Regions from separate parts of the Homo sapiens genome. Here all the other regions are linked to region 1. The links come from fine-mapping of genetic effects on gene expression. A gene starts in region 1. Each other region holds a variant in brackets. All regions are shown on one strand. Distances are between the middles of the regions.

Evidence for each region. PIP is the estimated chance that this variant, and not a neighbour inherited with it, causes the effect.
Region 2: its variant is fine-mapped to the expression of USP20 in whole blood (TOPMed, PIP above 0.99).
Region 3: its variant is fine-mapped to the expression of USP20 in thyroid (GTEx, PIP 0.97).
Region 4: its variant is fine-mapped to the expression of USP20 in lung (TOPMed, PIP above 0.99).

What each region holds. Positions count from the first base shown.
Region 1 is chr9:129,833,248-129,838,391 of GRCh38, reverse strand. USP20 (ubiquitin specific peptidase 20) reads right to left here and starts at 2,934. Exons shown (of 26, transcript NM_001110303.4): 1 at 2,893-2,934. It overlaps C9orf78 (chromosome 9 open reading frame 78), which reads left to right and starts at 3,117. Exons shown (of 9, transcript NM_016520.3): 1 at 3,117-3,253; 2 at 3,626-3,685; 3 at 4,683-4,734; 4 at 4,875-4,945. The coding sequence starts at 3,171. RefSeq lists an enhancer at 2,184-2,684 and silencers at 2,656-2,805, 2,836-3,185.
Region 2 is chr9:129,883,030-129,888,173 of GRCh38, reverse strand. FNBP1 (formin binding protein 1) reads left to right here. Exons shown (of 17, transcript NM_015033.3): 17 at 1-987. Among named protein-coding and RNA genes, the nearest start is that of MIR6855, 16 kb to the right of the region's middle. RefSeq lists a silencer at 2,149-2,398 and enhancers at 2,589-2,638, 2,689-3,370, 3,169-3,478, 3,470-3,764. The variant A/G (reference allele first, on the strand shown) is at 2,368.
Region 3 is chr9:129,898,226-129,903,369 of GRCh38, reverse strand. It overlaps FNBP1 (formin binding protein 1), which reads left to right. Exons shown (of 17, transcript NM_015033.3): 13 at 369-501; 14 at 2,823-2,944; 15 at 3,269-3,405. Among named protein-coding and RNA genes, the nearest start is that of MIR6855, 31 kb to the right of the region's middle. RefSeq lists an enhancer at 2,588-2,707. The variant C/T (reference allele first, on the strand shown) is at 2,927.
Region 4 is chr9:129,863,922-129,869,065 of GRCh38, reverse strand. It overlaps USP20 (ubiquitin specific peptidase 20), which reads right to left. Exons shown (of 26, transcript NM_001110303.4): 10 at 3,685-3,763; 11 at 617-1,061; 12 at 64-204. Among named protein-coding and RNA genes, the nearest start is that of MIR6855, 3.1 kb to the left of the region's middle. RefSeq lists a silencer at 3,842-4,136. The variant G/C (reference allele first, on the strand shown) is at 3,084.

The DNA of each region.
Region 1 (5,144 bases):
ACTGGAGCCAAAGAGCACTGCCACTTTCCTGCCTTTAAATATTTGTTGTTAGCCGGGCACAGTGGCTCACACCTGTAATCCCAGCACTTTGGGAGGCTGAGGCGGGCGGATCACTCAAGGTTAGGAATTTGAGACCAGCCTGGCCAACATGGTGAAACCCCGTCTCTACTAAAAATACATAAATTAGCCAGGTGTGGTGGTGGGCGCCTGTAATCCCAGCTACTCAGGAGTCTGAGGCAGGAGAATCACTTGAACCTGGGAGGCGGAGGTTGGAGTGAGCCAAGATCGCACCACTGCACTCCAGCCTAGGCAACTGAGTGAGACTCCGTCTCAAAAAAAAAAAAAAAAATTGTTGTCAACGTGCATGGCTTCTCCAAGTTTCCTCCTTCATGCTAATGAGAACCAGTTGGATACTGTTTGTCTTGCTAAGGTAAAAGGCTAAGAACAGCCTGGCTCTTTCATCACTGTTAAATACCCCACAATCAGGACTTGAGTTCAGGGTGTACACTCTAAATAAAAGCTTTTGTAAAATAAAGTTCAAGCTTACAGACCCCTAAAACCACCAGGCAGTGACTGGAACCCAAGGCCTATCATTCAATCCACTGCTTTATCTGTCATGTTTCCAACCAAATCCCAAACCAGAATGCGCTAATTTTAATTTGCAACTCAACCTTGCCACCCTCCCGGAGGTGATTCCCTTGTTTTGCTCTATTTGTTTCTTTTCCACAGCACTTACCATCTTCTAACACACTTTACATACTTTACTGTGAGAACATACACTCAACTAATCAGGGATCTTTTGTCTCTTTTGCTGACTTATTTCAAGCACTTAGAACAGTGCCTGCTCATATAGTAAATGCTAAGAATCTGTTGAATACATTGATCCAATAAATACATTTATTGGATGCCGACTATAGCTGGGCTGTGAACTGTATCACGTTGCTGGATCCCAAATCCAATCGGACATGAATGCTCCCTGAACCCTGAAACAAGCCAACATTTCATCTGGCTCCAGAAAGGAGCTAGGAAACCAACCAAAACCTAGGTTGAATCTGTACATTTTCTTAAAACAACTGAACTCCCAAACAAGACTAAGACCTTGGATTCATCTTTGAACTGCATAGAACCTGTATTTCTCGGAGGGTCCTTTTGAGAGACAGTCTCATCCTACGCTTAAAAGGGCCCAGTGAGACTTGGGCTGCAGTCTCTTGGCAAAGCCACTTACTGCCAGATTCATAGCTGCCACTTTTTCAGCATTCCTTTTGCTAAAGAGCACTCAATTAGATCTGCCACAGCACAGGTGGTGGTTATCACTGGGTCCTCTGGCCTCATGGAGCAAGGGTGGGAGCAGCTCATCTGTACCCTGGGACTTCAGCTGAGGAGGAGGGTCCAGAAATGCCCCTGGCCTTCTTGCCCTTTCCTTAGTAGTGTCCAGTACCCCCTGGTGGATGGGCTGCTTGATGGGCAGATTCAGAGCCACCTCTGAGAGCGTGAGAGCTGCAGACGTTGACCCCCTGGACTCCTGCAGCAATTCCCAAGGAGCCTCTCCATCATCTGACAGGGACTCCGTATCCAGTGAGTGCACGTGCATCTGGGTTTGGCTGAACCAGTCTGCAGAGGGCAAGACTTTGAGACTTTAATATATGGCTTTTGACCAAAGATAAAACGCTGGTGCAAGAAGTCCCGAGTCTACTATTTTTTCCAGCCCAAGGAAGAGAAGAACAATCTCAGTGGAGACTGTTCCAGAGAAAACGTAAGGCATTCTAGAAATGCTGCCCTGCTTCGGAATGGTCTTCCAGAAAGGGGAACCCCAGACAGCCCCCATCGGCCCCTCCCCCTAGCCAATGAGATGTAACAGCAGCTGCAGCAGCAGCAAACATCTACTGCACTCCTACCGTGCCAGGCCCTGTGCAAACCGTGCGGCAGAGACTGACCTGCAACCAATTCCTGTTCCACCTCCTAGCTGGGTAACTTGAGGCGTGCACTGCCCCTCGGAGACTCCGCATTCTCATTTGTAAAACGAAAAACAATCTACCTCAAAGGATTGCTGGGAGAATTCAATGAGATGATGCTTTGCCCAGGGCCTGCCACATAGTAACTGCTTAATAAGAGGTAGTTCTCAAAGTAAGGGATGACACTGAGAAAAGGAAAACTACTGTTACTTAAGGGGTTCTTAAAAGTCCTAGAAGCCATTATTTATGCATTTAGGTATTTCCTAAGCGTTTGCTGATACCAGTTTTTCAAATAAACTTTATCCTCACAGCATCTTCGGGGTGGAAGGGGCAGAGGGTAGAGCGACAGACCTGCCGAAGGAGGAAAACCAGACCCGTGAAGGTCCAGGGGGGTGGCCGGCAAGCACCGAGGAGGAGTCCCCCGGCTCAAACCCTCTTGCGTGGCTTCAAAACATCAGACGCGCCTCTCCTCGCGGAGAAGCTGGGGGCCATTATTTGTGAGGCAGTCGGCGCTGGGACTCTAAGTCAGCACCGCAGAGAAGTGGTCATCTTTTGTTCCGAAAGAAAAAAACGCACGTCAGGGCTCAGAGCCCGAGGAAAGAAAAGTCAGCGCCCGAGACGCGAGACGCCACGCGGATGCTTTCAACGCTAGGTCAGGCCCCGGCAGAAATGAGAGGGGGGCGGCCCCGGTTCTGGAGAAGCCACGAGCCCCCAGGGAGCTCAGAGTGGGGTGGTGCTGGGGCCCAGAGGCCCCCCTGGGCGCCGACCGGAGGAGGGGAGAGGGGCGGCGGCGGCCGGGGGGGTCCCGGGCTCCGCTCACCGGGCCGCTGCGTCTGGCGTACCTGGCGAAGCCAGGCCCTGTCAGCCCGGAGCCGGGCTGGGGTCGCCAATGCTCAGAGGCCCGGCCCACAGAAGCAGCCGGTGGCGGCCCGGAACTCACCTGCACTCGCAACTGCGCCGCCGCCGCCTGTCAGTCAAGCGCGCCCCCTCTGAGGCGACGCGCAGGGTTGTGGGGCCGTCTGGCGACGCCCCACCTCCTTCCCTCTGCCGTCCAATCGGAAGAGGCTGACGCCAGGAGAGGGGGCGTGGCCACGCGGACTGTGCGTGCCGGGGGCGGGGCCAGACGGGGCAGGCGCTCTGACCGCTCTGCCGCGCGCCGGAAGCAGCCTGGGCCGCTGCGCAGAGGCGCGGCGGCTGTACAACTCGGCCGTTGTCACCATGCCGGTCGTCCGGAAGATTTTCCGTCGCCGCCGGGGCGACTCGGAGTCAGAGGAAGATGAGCAGGACTCAGAGGAGGTTCGGTGCGTTTGGGGCGGGGCTCCCATAGGCTTGGTAAAGATAGACTTGTTTGGGGGACTCACCACCGGCTCGGCGCTTCGCTGACATTGTTAACTGTGAGCTCGGGTGGTGGTTCCTTCTGCGGACGCAGAAATTGAGGCTCAAGGGGTGAGGCCACCGCCCCAAGCTCGAACGGTTGAGAGAGATGCCTCCGGGATGCGCAGTGGCTCTGACTCCCGGTGGGTCTAGGCACAAGGTCGTCCTCTGGACCACTGTGCTGGTGGCTCAGTAGCTGGGCTGGGATGCCCTCGAAGGTGCCTTATTGGCTCTGTTAGCTTTGGATTCCGCGGGGAATCACTCAGCTTATGCATTGCTGCTTCTTCTTCTTTTTAAAGATTAAAACTGGAAGAGACCAGAGAGGTACAGAACTTGAGGAAGAGGCCCAACGGGGTGAGGTGGGTACCACGCGGGGAGGAGGAGGAGGCGGCGGGGACGACAGACACATCCGCGTCCGGGTCGCTGTCACAAATATCTCCTCAGACGTAGATTTTTCTCTTGACACACTGTACACCTTCCACTGCCCAACTTGGAGAACAGCGTTCTTTGCAAATGTTTAACCAGGACATGCCCTGAGCTGTGTCGTCTCGGGGTGTGCTCCAGAGATACAGAAACAGATCACTAACTCGCGTTTTTTATTAAAACCAATTAATTGTGAAATGCATATCGATCGTTAAGAGTTTGTATAATTTAGAAAAGTATAGTCAAGACGATAAAAAGCACCCATAATTCTCCCATCCGGAAATGATCAGTGTTAACATTTTTTTTCCTTGCAGAGCCACCCAAGAATGCACTGGTATTAATATTGAATACTCTTTCCAATCTGTTTTTTTTCGTCTCTCTCTCTCAGATTGTGAACAACTTTCTATGTACTTTTATTCCCTGTTCTTTTCAACTCATTATGACATTGTGGGCATTCACCCATATTGTGGAATATTTTTCAGAAAGCCTTAATGGCTGCATAATATTCCACCAGATGTGTGTATTGTAATTTGTTAACAAATCCCCTATTTTGGGACATGTAGGTGATTTTGTAAATTTTTACTATCAAATAAGGCTGCAGTGGATATTCTCTTAAATTTATCTTTAGCTGCACTTTCCATGATGAGAATATCTTAGAAATGAGATTTCCAGGCCAAGATAATGCCAAATGGCTTTACAGGAAAGTGGCAAAGTGTACCACTTCACCACCAGCGCACCCTTCTTCCAGCATCTGCGGTGCTCGTTGAGCCCTGTCTTATGCTTATAGGCTTTTCCAGCCGGCTTGCCTACCCACCCCTCAAATCCCACCCTTGCACTAATGTTGCAATCCGCATACCTGAGAGGGTTCCTCCTTATCTCTGAATTATGCCATTTCTCTCTCTCCCCCTCTCTTTTTTTTTTGGTTTTGCTCAGTGCTGTGGCCTTGCTGGTGGGAGAGAAGGTACAAGAGGAGACCACTCTAGTGGTAAGTTATGGGGTCTTCCCTGAGTAGTTATGGCAGCCCTCCCTGCAGTGCTCTTCAGTGAGTGAGCGTGCTTCACAAAAAAAAAAATTCCACTACCATGTATTTAGATGCTTCCTCTTAACTGTGTTTGCTTTCTGCAGGATGATCCCTTTCAGATGAAGACAGGTGGTATGGTGGATATGAAGAAACTGAAGGAAAGGGGCAAAGATAAGTAAGTTCAGGACAAGCTTAGATGCAAATTCACCTTTAGCGGCTGCCTGGGTCTAGGTTCCCTCAGAGAGCTGGGGCCTGTAGCAGCAGCATTAGTAGGACATCTTGAAGCAGGTTTTGTGCTTTGCAAAGGGTGTGTTATTTAAAAACAAAGAAAGCAAAAAGTCTTTAAAAGTTAACTTAGAGCCAAGTTGGTAGAC
Region 2 (5,144 bases), 50 kb before region 1:
TCTTTGAATGACCGTCACCCCCAGTATAGGATATGCTTGTATCCCCCCGTCACTCCTCCGCCTGTTTTTTAAACTTTTCCACCACCTGCGTCCAAAAAGAATGTTATAGCGAGTGCTCTTAAATGTTGAACCTGGGTGTTGCTTCCGGGCCAGTCTGCGTGGCTCCATGAAAAGCTCACTGCTGCCCCAGCCGGGCTTCTTAGAGGAGGTCAGTTGTCCTATGTATCATCATTTACTCTGGGAATCCTACTGTGAAATCATGTCTGTATTTTTCTGGAGCAGTTCACATAGAGTAGAATGTGGAATTTCCCGTGAACGTCTCCTTCCTCCCCCGTATCTGCCGCCTGTCACTTCGCCACCGTGCTAGAATACTGTTGTGTTGTAAGATGACTAATTTTAAAAGAACCTGCCCTGAAAAGTTCTTAGAAACGCAGTGAAAGGGAGGAACTTGTCCTTTACCCAGTTTTTCCTTTGTAGGATGGGAAAGTATAAAAAGGCACAGAAGGTTGTCATGGGCTGTTCCTTGGGGGTTTTTATCCTGCTCACCGTGGAGATAAGCCTGCGGCTTGTCTAACCAGCGCAGCGCAAAGGTCTCGATGCCTTTTGGTAACATCCGTCATTGCAGAAGAAAGTTTACACGACGTCAAAAAGTGACGTTCATGCTAAGTGTTTTTCCAGAAATATTGGTTTCATGTTTCTTATTGGCTCTGCCTCCTGTGCTTATATCATCCAAAAACTTTTTAAAAAGGTCCAGAATTCTATTTTAACCTGATGTTGAGCACCTTTAAAATGTTCGTATGTGTGTTGCACTAATTCTAAACTTTGGAGGCATTTTGCTGTGTGAGGCCGATCGCCACTGTAAAGGTCCTAGAGTTGCCTGTTTGTCTCTGGAGATGGAATTAAACCAAATAAAGAGCTTCCACTGGAGGCTTGTATTGACCTTGTAACTATATGTTAATCTCGTGTTAAAATAAAATATAACTTGTGGCTCCGTGTCACGGGACTGTTTTGTTGCATGAAGATATGACCCTAGTTGTGGAAGCAGCCTGGTGTCATTGGAAGCCCCCTGGGCTGGGGAGCTGGCCCCTGGGAGGAGCTGGAGACCTAGATAGCTCTCAGTTCCACCCCCATCCACGGTGGAGGGGGAGGCTCTCAGACCGTGGTGACGTGGAATTCGGGCTGATGTAGTGCGAGGATTGCGAGAGGCTGCTTATGGCCAGGAGTATTTTTTGCATGCACATTCAACTGGTTGCTGCTCTAGCTCTTTGGGGACCTCATTGCTTGGGGCTGGGGCAGGAGGAGGTGGTGAAATGAGGGCACACCTGAGTTTCATTATTTATCTGGTATCACCAGTGCTCAAGCCGGTACTCCTGGTGGCGTGGCTGGAATCACTAGTTTCTGTGAAGCTGCAGGCAGTGCGGAGCTGTTTCACGTGGACAACTCGAAAGGGCAGCAGCCTTGTGCCTGGCACTGGCTGGACATGTGCAGTGGGAGGCCCCGTTTCCACAGCCAGCTTTGAAAATTTCACCCTGGCCTTTTGGGGGAAGATAGGATTGGTTTGTGCCCACACTTCTCTGTGTCCCAAGGGTTTTTTTTTTTTTTTTTTTAGCACTGTTTTAGGAAAACAGTTGTCCAGGAAATGACATATTCGCAGCTACACCAAGTGCAGACCTGGCAGCTCTGCTGATGCCAAGCATCCTCACTTGCGGAGGGCAGGAGGTGAGGGCACCAATATGGGGCCATTGGTAACCTCTAACCACAAGTGCGTGCAGTTGGCTTCAAGGCACCATTGAGAATTGCTGGTTCCCAGTGTGACACAGTGTGGCACAAGGGAACAAGGTGGATCTACTGTTATCCTACCCGAAACCCTCTCCTCTAGGTTGTCAGCAAAAAAGTCCACTTGGGAAGAATATTTCGGGACTGCGCCCAGCCGTCTGTGGGGCGGAGACGGGCTGTCTCCACCTGTGAACCCCCCCATGCCCCACCCGCCCCTGCCGAGCCTTCTCCAAGAGCCGCACCAGCGCTGAGAAGCCTAGAACAGAGCCTGCTGGTTTGGGGCCCCCATTTCCGCGGGTGTGGACATCACAGAGGTCGGGAGCATTGGGGGCGACTAGTTTGTTTTCTGCTGCACTGGGGAAGCCTCTTGAAGTAGGAAGTTCCTGACTCACCGGCTCCGGGGAGGCCACAAGCCTGTGGGGCCGGCTCCTCCAGCGGGTCAGGAAATACCGGCCCGCCCCACGCCCTCCACCCGCCCTGGGCACGCCCGGGCCTGGGAGGCGGCTCCTCCGTCCGCAGAGGTGGTGGGGACCCCTGGCGGGAGCAGACGGCAGAGCGCAGCAGTGGAGGGAGCAAGAAGGGCCCCCTGCG[A/G]TGAGGAACGAGATGGCGGTGGACAGAGGCAGGATTCGGTCGTGCCCCCAGCTTTTTTTAAATTGAAGCGAAAGACTCAGAAATCGTGAAATGTATGGGACAGCCTGGAAGCTCCACTTTGAACTGCTGCTGCCAGAGAAGGATGGTGGGAAAGAGCCACCATCCAGACGGGTTCCCTGGCTCTGCGCACTCGCCTGGGGGAGGCCTCCTTTTCCCTGGTCCTAAAACGCTTTCCCGATAGGGGAGGCAGGGATCTGTGTTGCCAGCGCCCTCTGAGACCCGGGATGAGCGTGTGAAGGCTGCCAGCAGGCACGTGGCAGCCCCTTGGTGTGTCAGCTGCTTCTCCAGGGTCCCACTGAGTGCCCATTCGGCCTTGACTTGAGCACTCCTGCCTCCCGTTAGACCTCCAGATGGTATAGTGACCTCCGCCGGGGACATCTCCGGACCACAAAAGGTACAGAAGAAGCAGAGGAAGGACCCTATCCTTGTCCTCAGAGCTAAGGGGCCGAAAGCTGTGGGAGGAAACACGGACCCACTGTCCCCGTCGGGGATGGGGAAGGCTCCCTTCCTCCCTGCGGCACCTGCTGGACGGACGTCTCAGCCTAGGACAGGGCCGCATCCCTTCAGTCCGCACAGCCCCTGGCTGCCACGCTGTGCCGAGCCCTGCCCTTGAGAACCTGTTTCCAGTTCCAGCTCTCCACAGGCCCCCTCATCTAGGCTGGTCCCGGGTCAAATCGAAGGAAGGAATGGAGGCTGCACCCTGAGAAACCCTGGGACACCCTTCCAGAACATACATTGCCTAGGCTGTCTACTGCTCCTAGCTTTCCCCAAAGGCGTGTGTTTCTTCTGCGCCCAGCTCACCCTTGCTCCGTCCAGGTAGCAGGTGTCTCTCTGTGTAGGTGAAGTTGCAGAAGGGACGAGCCAGAGGGGGCTGTGATTCCGAAACCTCTGCTCACTTCCCCCAAGGCTCTCTGGGGCTCAAAATTAGGTAGCATTAAGACCCTCAGGATAATTTATGTTTGCACTGAATTTAAAACAGAACAAAGGTAGGAACTACACTTTTTGGGTGGCTGCGCCTTGCAAATGTATTCGGATGCAGGTTTGTGAGCAGCGCCATGGCCGACAGAACCACAGGCAGGCGGCAGGTCTCCTGCAGCCTCCCCCACGGTGCAGGGGCGCCTTTCCGGCTCCTCTAAGAAGCGCTGCTGAAGCCACGCCCTGGCTTAGCGCGGAGGAGGAGCCACCGTGGGGCACCGTGGGGAGCGAGGCCTGAGCCCCGCCTCCCCAGTCACCGAGCACTTCCTGTCCCTGCTCAGTAATCAAGCACAGACTTCAGATCTTGGCATCTCAGTCTGAACTCCTTAAAAGCCAGGTATTTTAAAAGAAACGTTTTAAGGCAAATTGGTACCTATTTCCAGCCCACCTTTCTGTAGTGCAAGAACTGTCTCCAAACCTCCTAAATAAATCTTCCAGACAAAACTTTCATTCTCATTTTCCATGTTCAATGTCAATCACGTGGATTGACACATATCTAACCTTCAAATGTAAACAAAGCCAAAAATATTGCTTAGAGATTCCCACATAAAGACAAAGGTTGCTTTTTCCTCTTCCGGGAACGCTGTCTACAGGCACTCAGCATGGCCCAGTTTCCCAAACCGTCATAGGCTTTCCTAGAATACAGCCTCTAACAGCACTAGGCCGGCCCGAACCCCTGGGAAGAGAATCGTTTACCTTTATACCAAGATTGGGAAACTGCCAAAGTCTGCACATGGCATGGGCCTGGGCTGACTCCGAGGGGTTTGTGCTGTGAGACCTAAAGCTCCTATGAGACTGCCCCAAAGCAAAAACATGTCAGCAAGCGGCCAGGCGTGGTGGCTCACGCCTGTAATCCCAGCACTTTGGGAGGCTGAGGCAGAAGGATCACTTGAGCCTAGGAGTTCGAGGCCAGCCTGGGCAACACAGTGAGACCCTGTCTACAAACAAAAAACCCATCAGCAGTGCATCTGGTGCTTCTGTGTGAACGTGTTCCCGACAGGATCAAGTGTGCCTTCCTCATCAAGGAGCAGAAAGTTGCTGGGAAGGTGTTAAGGGCAGGAGCACAGTCAGAAAGCTCAATTTTAAAATGATGTTTTGGCCGGGTGTGGTGGCTCATGCCTGTAATCCCAGCACTTTGGGAGGCTGAGGCAGGCAGATCACAAGGTCATGAGATCGAGACCATCCTAGCTAACACCGTGAAACCCCGTCTCTACTAAAAATAAATAAAATAAAAAATAAAATTAGCCAGGCGTCGTGGCACATGCCTGTAGACCCAGCTACTCCAGAGGCTGAGGCAGGAGAATTGCTTGAACCCCAGGAGGCAGAGGTTGCAGTGAGTTGAGATTATACCACTGCACTCCAGCCTGGGCAACAGAGTGAGACTCTGTCTCAAAAAATAATAATAAAATGAAGCTTTTTTCAGGAAAAAAAAAAAAAAAAAAGGCGGGATGAGGGAACCACATGCAAAGAGCCACCTCTGGGGTCAGGCAAGGTGGCCGACTCCGGAGGGGCCCCAGGCTTTCCATGGAACTGGCAATGTGTCATCTTGGTTCCTTGTCACCGTGTTATCCTTGCATACGCTGAAATGTTTCTGTACGCTCGTATCTGATAGCGGCAGGGAAGCAGAAGCCTAGGGGAGCCAGGGTGACATCATTTTGAGTTCGGCTCCACCTAAAACTAGCAAGGGAGGCTGGGCCCGGTGGCTCACACCTGTAATCCCAGCACTTTGAGAGGCCGAGGTA
Region 3 (5,144 bases), 65 kb before region 1:
GATAAGAGTAACCTTTGCCGGGTGGTGCGGTAGCTCACGCCTATAATCCCAGCACTTTAGGAGGCTGAGGCAGGCAGATCACCTAAGGTCAGGAGTTCAAGACCAGCCTGGCCAACGTGGCAAAACCCCATCTCTACTAAAAATACAAAAATTAGGTGGGTGTGGTGGCATGCACCTGTAATCCCAGCTATTCTGGAGGCTGAGGCAGCAGAATTGCTTGAACCCTGGAGGTGAAGGTTGCAGTGAGCCAAGATCGTTGCAGTGAGCCGAGATCGCACCATTGCACTCCAGCCTGGGTGACAAGAGTGAAACTGTCTAAAAAAAAAATGGAGTAACCTTTACAGCATTCTACTCGTTCTTTCTTTCAGAGATGCCATAACAAAAATGAAAGATGTCTACCTAAAGAATCCTCAGATGGGAGACCCAGCCAGTTTGGATCACAAATTAGCAGAAGTCAGCCAAAATATAGAGAAACTGCGAGTAGAGACCCAGAAATTTGAGGTATGAAACTTCTGTTGTGGAAAGCTTTGTTGGAAACGAAGAACAGGTGTTCCTCGGTGTAGAATGGTGTGGGGCCCTGACGATCCTCTCACTGGGAGGTACACAGTGGGAATGGCAGGCTGTTTCAGGAGTTATGGTCAAAGGAAAAATACACTCTTCGCCGTTGAACATTCTCCTACTCATCATAGCCTATCTTAATCGTGGCTGTAAAACCTGACAATGTTTAATGTTGTATCTGTATACGGTGCGGGGTTGGCGGGGTTGTTTTTTAATTTTAGAGACAGGATTTTGCTTTGTTGCCCAGGCTGGAGTACAGTGGCATGCTTGTAGCTCACTGCAGCCTTGATCTCCTTGGCTCAGCCTTTGAGGAGCTGGGATTACAGGCACATGCCACCATACCTGGCTAACTTTTATTTTTCAATTTTTTATTTGTTTTAGAGTTGAGGTCTTGCTCTGTTGCACAGACTGGTCTTGAACTCCTGGCCTTAAGCCATCCTCCCACCTTGGCCTCCCAGAGTGCTGGGATTACAGCTGTGAGCCACTGTGAGCCACTGTGCCTGGCCAGTATTTTTTGTACTTTAAGTTATTCTGCTTCATCTCATGGTAATAAAATTGGGAGTATAGAGCGATCCGTTATCCCAGTGAATCAAAGAAGCAATGAAAAAAATCCCCTGAAATATACAATTGTTCTCTCAGCAGGCCCATTATGGAAAGGGTGTGTGTGAGAACCAGCAGCAAACACAAAGGAGAAACAAGCAGGAAACATAAATAATCAAAGCTTGAGGGAGGGAGAGGAGCACTCAAAAGCTGTCAACAAAAGCCTCCTGAACCCACTCTCCCTACCACGTTTAAAGACTACAGAGCATGGAAAAATACATTAGCAACCGATTCTACCAGTCAGAATAGATTGTTTCCAGCAATGAAGGGTCAACTATGGCTTTTTTCATTCTTTTTTTTGAGATGAAGTCTCGCCCTGTTGCCCAGGCTGGAGTGTAGTAGCGTGATCTCACCTCAGTGTGACCTCCACTTCCCAGGTTCAAGTGATTCTCCTGCCTCAGCCTCCTGAGTAGCTGGGACTACAGGTGTGTACCACCACACCCGGCTACTTTTTGTATTTTTGGTAGAGACAGGGTTTTGCCATGTTGGCCAGGCTGGTCTCGAACTCCTGACCTCAGATGCTCCACCCACCTTGGCTTCCCAAAGTGCTGGGATTACAGGCGTGAGCCACCACACCTGGCCAGCTTTTTCCATTCTTTTCAGAATCCATCATTAATGTTCATTTGAGCATTTAGAACTTAGAACGGTCCTTTTCTTATTATTATTCTTTTTTTTGAGACAGAGTCTCGCTCTGTCACCCAAGCTGGAGTGCAGTGGTGCAGTCTCGACTCACTGTAACCTCCACCTCCTGAGTTCCAGTGATTCTCGTGCCTCAGCCTCCCGAGTAGCTGGGACTACAGGCATGTGCCACCATGCCCAGCTAATTTTTGTATTTTTAATGGAGATGGAGTTTCACCATGTTGGCCAGGCTGGTCTCGAACTCCTGACCTCAGGTGATCTGCCCACCTCTCCCAAAGTGCTGGGATTACAGGCGCTCACCACCACCCCCAGCTAATTTTTGTACTCTTAGTAGAGACAGCGTTTCACCATGTTGGCCAGGCTGGTCTGAAACTCCCAACCTGAAGTGATTCACCCACCTCGGCCTCCCAAAGTGCTGGGATTACAGGTGTGGCCACCGCGCCCGGCCTTCTCGTCATTTTTATTCCTTTGACTTGTTTATACTGTTTCAAATGCTGAAGGTCATTTTATCTACTTTAATTTTTAAGTACAAGTTTCATTTCTATCAAAAAAAAAAGTTACACTCCTAAAAAATAGGAAGTGTGGCTTTCAAACTGAGTCACTGCTTTAAGCATGGCTGTACCTTCAGGTATCACAGGGCGACCTCATGGTCAAGAAGGAACTAGAAGTGACTTATCCAAGACTGCACTGCTGCTTAAAAGCCCAAGGGGATAGCATAGTCCAGTGTGCTTTCTGCCCCATCGTGGGCAACCACATAAATATGAGTTTGTTTCTATGTCTCCAACTTCGGGTGAAATGGAAGCAACCGTCCTTCAGTACATTTGAACAGTCGAAGGCAGAAAACGTGGCCATTCTGCCCCCACGTGGACTTCCTCACATTGGGTTAAATGGCCAAGAGTAGCCCCTGAGTTTGGGACCTTAGGATGCTCCGGGCTGGCCCTCAGATGGCCTTTGGGACCTTAGGACACTCTGGGCTGACCCTCAGATGGCCTTAGGTTGGAGTCTCTCATTGCTTTTGTCTCCAGGCCTGGCTGGCTGAGGTTGAAGGCCGGCTCCCAGCACGCAGCGAGCAGGCGCGCCGGCAGAGCGGACTGTACGACAGCCAGAACCCACCCACAGTCAACAACTG[C/T]GCCCAGGACCGTGAGAGGTACAGTATCTGCACAGCGCCTGCCTCTGGCAAGGGAGCCTGTTGGCTTTGTATTTATTTCTAAATTTTGGAATCTGGAATGACCATAAGGCACTTGTTCAATGCCAAAATGTCTGTTGCGATTGACCTGTCACTTTTTCCATGATGCAGATTTATAATTCCACATGGGATGGGTGATCTGAGCGTGCGATGATTTACCATGGCCTCAGTTACAGCACTCGCTGAGGGGCGGGGTTGCAAGTGCTCTCCAGTCGCAGGGACTCAATCTGAGTCCTCCCTGGGGTCAGTCGCTTTAGTTGCTTTGTGTTTTCCTTTCTTGAGCAGCCCAGATGGCAGTTACACAGAGGAGCAGAGTCAGGAGAGTGAGATGAAGGTGCTGGCCACGGATTTTGACGACGAGTTTGATGATGAGGAGCCCCTCCCTGCCATAGGGACGTGCAAAGCTCTCTACACATTTGAAGGTGACATTTCATGTCTGCTGGATTCCCCTGCCTTTTATAAACCATAATATCTGAGTTACTCTTCTTTCACTTTTCCTTCCTTCCTTCCTTCTGATCATTTTTATTCCTTTGTCCTTCCTTCCTTCCTTCCTACCTTCCCTTCCCCTTCCCCTTCCCCTTCCCCTTCCTTCCTTCCCTTCCCTTCCCTCCCTTCCCTTCCTTCCCTTCCTTCCCTTCCTTCCTTCCTTCCTTTTTTTCATACAGGGTCTCGCTCTCTTGCCCAAGTTAGAGTGCAGTGGTGCAATCATGGCTCACTGCAGCCTTGACCTCCTGGGCTCAAGTGATCCTCCAACCTCAGCCTCCTGAGTAGCTGGGACTACAGGCAAGCACCACCATGTCCGGCTCATTTTTGTACTTTTGTACTTTTTGTACTTTTCAGTAGAGACAGGGTCTCACTATGTTGCCCAGGCTGGTGTTGAACTCCTGGATTCAAGCAGTACTCCTGCCTCAGCCTCCCAAAGTGCTGTGATCACAGGTGTGAGCCACTGTGCCTAGCCACACTCTTCTCTTTCTGTGACCAGAACTTTCTTTAGAAGCCTTCCAGATCTGGCCGGGCATGGTGGCTCACACCTGTAATCCTAGAACTTTGGGAGGCTGAGGCGGGCAGGTCACTTGAGGCCAGGAGTTCAAGACCAGCCTCGCCAACATGGTGAAATCCCATCTCTACTAAAAATACAAAAACTGGCTGGGCATGCTGGCAGGCGCCTGTAATCCCAGCTGCTCGGGAGGCTGAGGCACGAGAATCACTTGAACCCGGGAGGCGGAGGTTGCAGTGAGCTGAGATAGCGCCACTGTACTCCAGCCTGGGTGACAGAACGAGACTCTGTCTCAAAAAAAAAAAAAAAGCTGCAGCAGCAGCCTTCCAGATCCTTCTCTACTATGCTTTTATCCTACTCATGGTATGATTATTATTTGGTTGTATATTTTGACTTTTGGTTCGTATAACTTAACAGCTTCCAGAGAGCTTGCTTCACTGCAGCAGACGATAGGGAGGATGATCATTTCATCCATTCATTTAATATCTAGTATCTATAGCGCTCCTGTCTTGTAAAGGCCCATGAAGTGGGGGGATGCAGGTCGTATGATATGGCACCTGCCCAGAGGGAAATCAGGCAGACACACTTAAGGAGCAAGCAGCGGCTGGGTGCAGTGGCTCACGCCTGTAATCCCAGCACTTTGGGAGGCCGAGGCAGGCGGATCGTGAGGTCAGGAGATCGAGACCATCCTGGCCAACATGGTGAAACCCCATCTCTACTAAAAATACAAAAATCAGCTAAGCGTGGTAGCGCATGCCTGTAATTCCAGCTACTTGGGAGGCTGAAGCAGGAGACTCACTTAAACCAGGAGTCGGAGGTGGCAGTGAGCCGAGGTCGTGCCACTTTACTCCAGCCTGGCAACAGAGCAAGACTCCCTCTCAAAAAAAAAAAGCAGGCAGTTTGCAGTGTTTGCCAGAAGAGGGATACAGAGGAACGGGGAGGACAGGGGAGAATGAGGTCGCTTCCTTAAGGAAGTTTGGAGAACTTGCCATGGCATGGGGGGTGTGGCCAGAAATGGGTGTGGTGTGGCTGGAGCTTAGATGTCTTAAGTCCTAATAGTGAAATGTGGCACTAAAGAGTGGGAAGTGCCAATGGGGGCGAGGTAGGGAAACATCTGGGTTTTATGTGGCAAACATTGAGGAGCTATGGGAGGTCCCCTAGCAG
Region 4 (5,144 bases), 31 kb before region 1:
CAGCTACGGGCGTAATCTGTACTCCCAGCCTCAAGCTGACCCACCCTCCCGTGCCCCCCGAACCTTTCTTGAGCACGTACGACGGTGCCATCCTCACGGGGCTTGCACGAGGGGGGCTGCTAGACAGCTTGGCATGGCCCTCGTGGTGGTGGACGGGGCTGCAGGGGCGAGAGGAGCTGCGTAGGTGAGCATCATTGTCCGGCTCTGGGGGCAGAGAGGGTACCATGCTGGGCCAGGGCAGCCAGGCCAGCTCCACGAGTGGGCAGGAAGATGACCTGCCAGCCCCTCCTAAAGGGACGAAAGCCTGACCCTAATGTGTCTCCTCTGTCATGTGCCCACTCCTGGCCCCAGCACACAGGCCGGAGCAGACCTGTCCAATCCATGTCCGGCTGGAAGGCTCAGGGCTCTGGGAGAGGGCTCTGAATTGGGCTCCAGCATTATGAGCTAGGGGACCCTGGGCACATCACTGAGCCCCCCCGGAGGCTGACTTCCCCACTGTCATTCGGGTCTAGTGAAGAACCCGTCCCCCGGGGGCTACTGCAGGTCGGCGCTCAGCACCCGGTAGGTACTGGGCCATAGGCTGAGGTTCCTCCCGCAGTCCCCGGCCAGCTGATACCTGGCGTCCGGCAGGGGCTGGAGGACCGTGGTGACGGGGGCTGGGCCTCCGCGGGCTGGTCGTCAAGGGCAGCCATGGCAGTGTCCACATCAGCGTCCTCGTCCACTTGCTCCGAGTTTGTACGCTGCTGGCCCCAGGAGAACTTGCGGTCCTTCATCCGCTCCTTCTCAGAGATGGCTCGGCCCGCCTCATCTGGGATCAGCAGCTCCGTCTCGGCCTGCGAGCTGCCCCCGCCACGCCCCTGCCCGTCACCCTCACCCCGGTCACTGCTCGAGTCACAGGACAAGAACTCATCTTCTGATGGGCTCCGGTCACCCTCCCGTTTCTCATCCGTGTCACTCGAATCTGAGTCCCGAGCCTCCGTCAGCGCCACCGTGGCCACCACCGGCTCCTTGAGCTCCTCGTGCAGCTGGTCCATCAGGCAGCGAAGGAACTCTTGGGTGTCCTAGAACCAGGGGCTGCATCAACAGGGCTCCCCTGGAGGCAGGAGGAACCAGTCTCCAGCGCCCTGTGGCTGATGAGAGCGCCAGCCTCCATCTAGGAGGACCTCATGGGCGCCCCCTGCAGAAGAGTTGCTCACCCCCACAGCGGCCTCCCATGGCAGTCTGTCCTAACCCCATTCTTCTGAGGATAACAGTGAGGACTGGAGAGGCTAAAGGACACCTACCAGGACACACAGCTAGAAAGTGTCAGAGCCAGGTATGCACCTGGGTCCATGCAACTCCCCGGCTCCGGCTCTGAATCTCCTGCCTCTGCTGCAAGCTCAGCACGGGAGGGACAGAGAGGCAGTACCACATTAAGCCCGAGCCACCTTTCTCCCTACAGATGAGACCAGTGGAGGTGGGCAGGGGGGTGGCGGAAGGATGAGGGAGTGTGATGCCAAAAGAGGACTCACCCGAGTCCTGCCCCAAGCCACGCTACCCACAGGCCAGACTGCCTGCATGCTCTACCCTTCCTCTGGCTCCCCCTGCTCCCTCAGTCCCTGTGCCAGCCCCCACATACCCTCACTGCCTGCTCTCACCTTCCCACAGACCTGGTCATGACTCAGTCTAAGCTGCCCCTGCAGGCTGCCTGGGTCTCAAATCCCAGCAATGACCATTTTATCCTGACCACTCTGTGACTGGGCCACCAGCACAGCAGGAAGCCAAGGCAGCAGGGGCTCGGGCAGAGGCGCCCAGTGAGCCCCACTGAGATCTGTGTGCTCACACAGGGGGTGCACTGGGAGGTCAGAACGTGGTGGTGGCAGCAGACCCCAGCAGCTAGCGGGTGCTCGGGTGGTGCTGGGCATTGGAGAAGGACTTGGGTTCCGAGCCCAAATCAGCCCCAGCAGTCCCTGACCTGGTTGTTAGAAGCAGCCCTCAGCCCAGGCTCTGATCCCCAGGAGGCAGGGGTCACGTAGCAGCCAGAGCCAGCCTCATGTCACACATCTGGGAAGAGGATCCCGGCTCTCTCCACTCATGTGCAGGGAAGGGAGGGCTCAGGAGGGACTCCCCAAGGCAAAGTGTCAGGCTCCAAGATCAGAGGAATGAACCACGAGGTTACATTGCATCAGGGAGGGGACACGTGTCCTGTGGCAGGCACGATCAAAGGCCCTTTCAAGAAGAGGCTTTCAATCTGCCATCTACTTCTCTTTCTGGTTCTTCCTTTCAACAAAAGTACTATGTGTTCCTTGCCAAAATCTCAATCCATGCAGAAGCACAAAAGAGTCTTTTGGCCCTTAAGAGGCGCCCGCAGCTGCGTCTACAGTTCAGCCTCAGAAGTGTCCCCACACGATATCCTAAAACCACAGAAAGGGATGCTTCTGCCGGAGCCCAGATGGAGTCCTGCCGCAGCGCATGGCCCTCCGTAACGGCATCCTGACCCAGAGCTGAAAGCCGGCAGGGCGCCTTGCACACAGTCAGGGTGGTGCTGTGCTGAGGGATGGGCTCAGGTAGGCCTGAATGCCATCTCTGCCAGGATGTGCTGTGTGACCTGGGTGAGGGGTAGAACCTCTCTGAGCCTCAGCTCTTTACCTGTAACGTGTGGGTGACAACAGTGCCCACTTTGTGAGACTTCTATGAGGACTAAGTTGTGACCACTTAAATGGTGCTCAGTGAATTTTAGTCATTGTGCATGTTATCACTCCCCAAAAAGAGAGGTGTCCAGGCAGTGCTGAGCTTCTCAAGCAGGAGCCAAAGGCCCAGCAGACTTCATCCTGGGACGGGACAGCAGGCAGGGGGTAGAGGGCGGAAGTTGTCCCCACATGACTGCCACTCCGTCCATGGTGCTCATTTCAGGCAGCACAAGAGGTGACCCAGCCAGGTCCAGCTCTGCCTGCAGGCCTGGCATGAAAGCCCAGGCTGTGGGCCATCTGGGGCAGGAGGCTGGAGGGCAGGAGCCATCAGCCCGGGGCTGAGGTGTACGCGTGGCTGCACTCTGTCTTGGTCTCATTATTTTATAAAATAGAAAAATGTGATTGGTTTCAAAA[G/C]GGTTCTCTAGATTTAAAAAAAATTTTTAATCAAACTTTTTACTTTAATAAAAGTGAAATTTTGCCTGTGGTTTGGGGAAATGAAACCCTGTGTCATTTTGGGTGCAACGCGGAGGCCCTGCAGCAAGGTTGCCTGGGTTCAAATCTCCCCTCCGCCGGGTGCAGTGGCTCATGCCTATAATCACAGCACTTTCGGAGCCTGAGGTGGGACGACTGCTTGAGCCCGGGAGGTCGAGGGTGCAGTAAGCCATGACTGCACCACTGCACTCCAGCCTGGGTGACAGAGTGAGACCCTGTACCCACCCTCCCCCACAAAAAAAAGAATTCCCCTCCACCATTTACTAGCTGTGTGGCCTGTGCAAGTGGCTCGGCCCCTGAACCTCAGTCTGTCCATCTGTGAAGTGGGGTTAAATGTCAGCAGGTTGCTGGGAGGCTCCACTGTCCTCACACGTGTGAAGGGCTTAGGAGTGAGAGCCTGGTCCGTGAGACCTGCCAACCAGTGCTCAGCTGCCATTGCGATTTTCCACTCTGGTTTTGGCGTCAAAGTCAGGCCTGGTGGGTCATGGCCTTGGGTGTCCCCTGGGCAGCTCAGATGGCTTACCTGCTGGGCATAGCCTCGGAACATTGGGTTGACCAACTTGATCCCATGAGACAGACTGGTGGGGACCACGTAGCTTGGCCTGTAGGAAGCCCAAACCCATTAGTCCAGGTAGCCTGCCTTGAGCTGCTCATTCCCGAGAGAAGCAGGCAGCCAGCCCGTCAGGCTGGATCAGAGTGTGGCGTTTCCTGACATTTGGGGAGGGGCCTACTCAGCCAGGAGCCCCAAGAGGCTCACACATCTCTACAGACAAGAAGAAAATGTCAAGTCATAGCTGCCTCAATTAAGCAAAGAGCTCAAATAAAATAGCATCATTTCCTTCTGGTGCACAACAAACTCGCCTAAACATGATTTGTTTTCATTCTGAAACACTTACTGTGGTTTTCTCATTTCAAAAGTAAGACATGTTCATTATTGACAAATCTAAAATTTCAGAAAAGTACAAGAGAAAAACACCACCACCAATGGCACCAGATACTTACCATTAGATTTCTGGTTCTGTGAAACTACAGATGCATATACAAAAATACATACAGATACACATTTAAACTTGGCTTCTTACACAAGCGGAATTATATTGTACCATGCTGGGTTTTTTTTTTTTTTTTTTTGGGACAGAGTCTTGCTCTGTTTCCCAGGCTAGAGTGCAGTGGCATGATCTTGGCTTGCTGCAACCTCCGCCTCCCGAGTTCAAGTGATTCTCCTGTCTCAGCCTCCCAAAGTGCTGGGAATACAGGTGCGCGCCACCATGCCCAGCTAATTTTTGTATTTTTAGTAGAGACGGGGTTTCACCACATTGGCCAGGCTGGTCTCGAACTCCTGACCTTGCGATCCACCCGCCTCGGCCTCCCAAAGTACTGGGATTACAGGAGTGAGCCACTGCACACAGACTTTTTTTTTTTTTTTTTTTTTTTTGAGACAGGGTCTCACTCTGTCGCCCAGGCTGAAGTGCAATGGCATGATCAAGCTCACTGCAGCCTGCCTCAACTTCCTGGACTCAAGCGATCCTCCCACCTCAGCCTCCTGAGTAGCTGGGACCACAAGTGCTCACACCACACTCAGCTAATTTTGTAGTTTTTGTAGAGGCGGGGTCTTGCTGTGTTGTCCAGGCCGGTCTCAAACTCCTAGGCTCAAATGATTCTCCTGCCTCGGCCTCCCAAAGTGCTGGATTTACAGGTGTCAGTGACTGCATCTGGCCCCACGCTGGTTTTTAATCTGCTTCTACATTTAATACATATTTCTCCCATGCTGGTTTGTTTTGTTTTTGTTTTTTTTTTTTTGAGACAGAGTCTCGCTTTGTCAACAGGCTGGAGTGCAGTGGTGCGATCTCGGCTCACTGCCACCTCCGCCTCCCAGGTTCAAGTGATTCTCCTGCCTCAGCCTCCCGAGTAGCTGGGACTACAGGCACACGCCACCACACCCAGCTAATTTTTGTATTTTTATTAGACACGGGGTTTCACCAT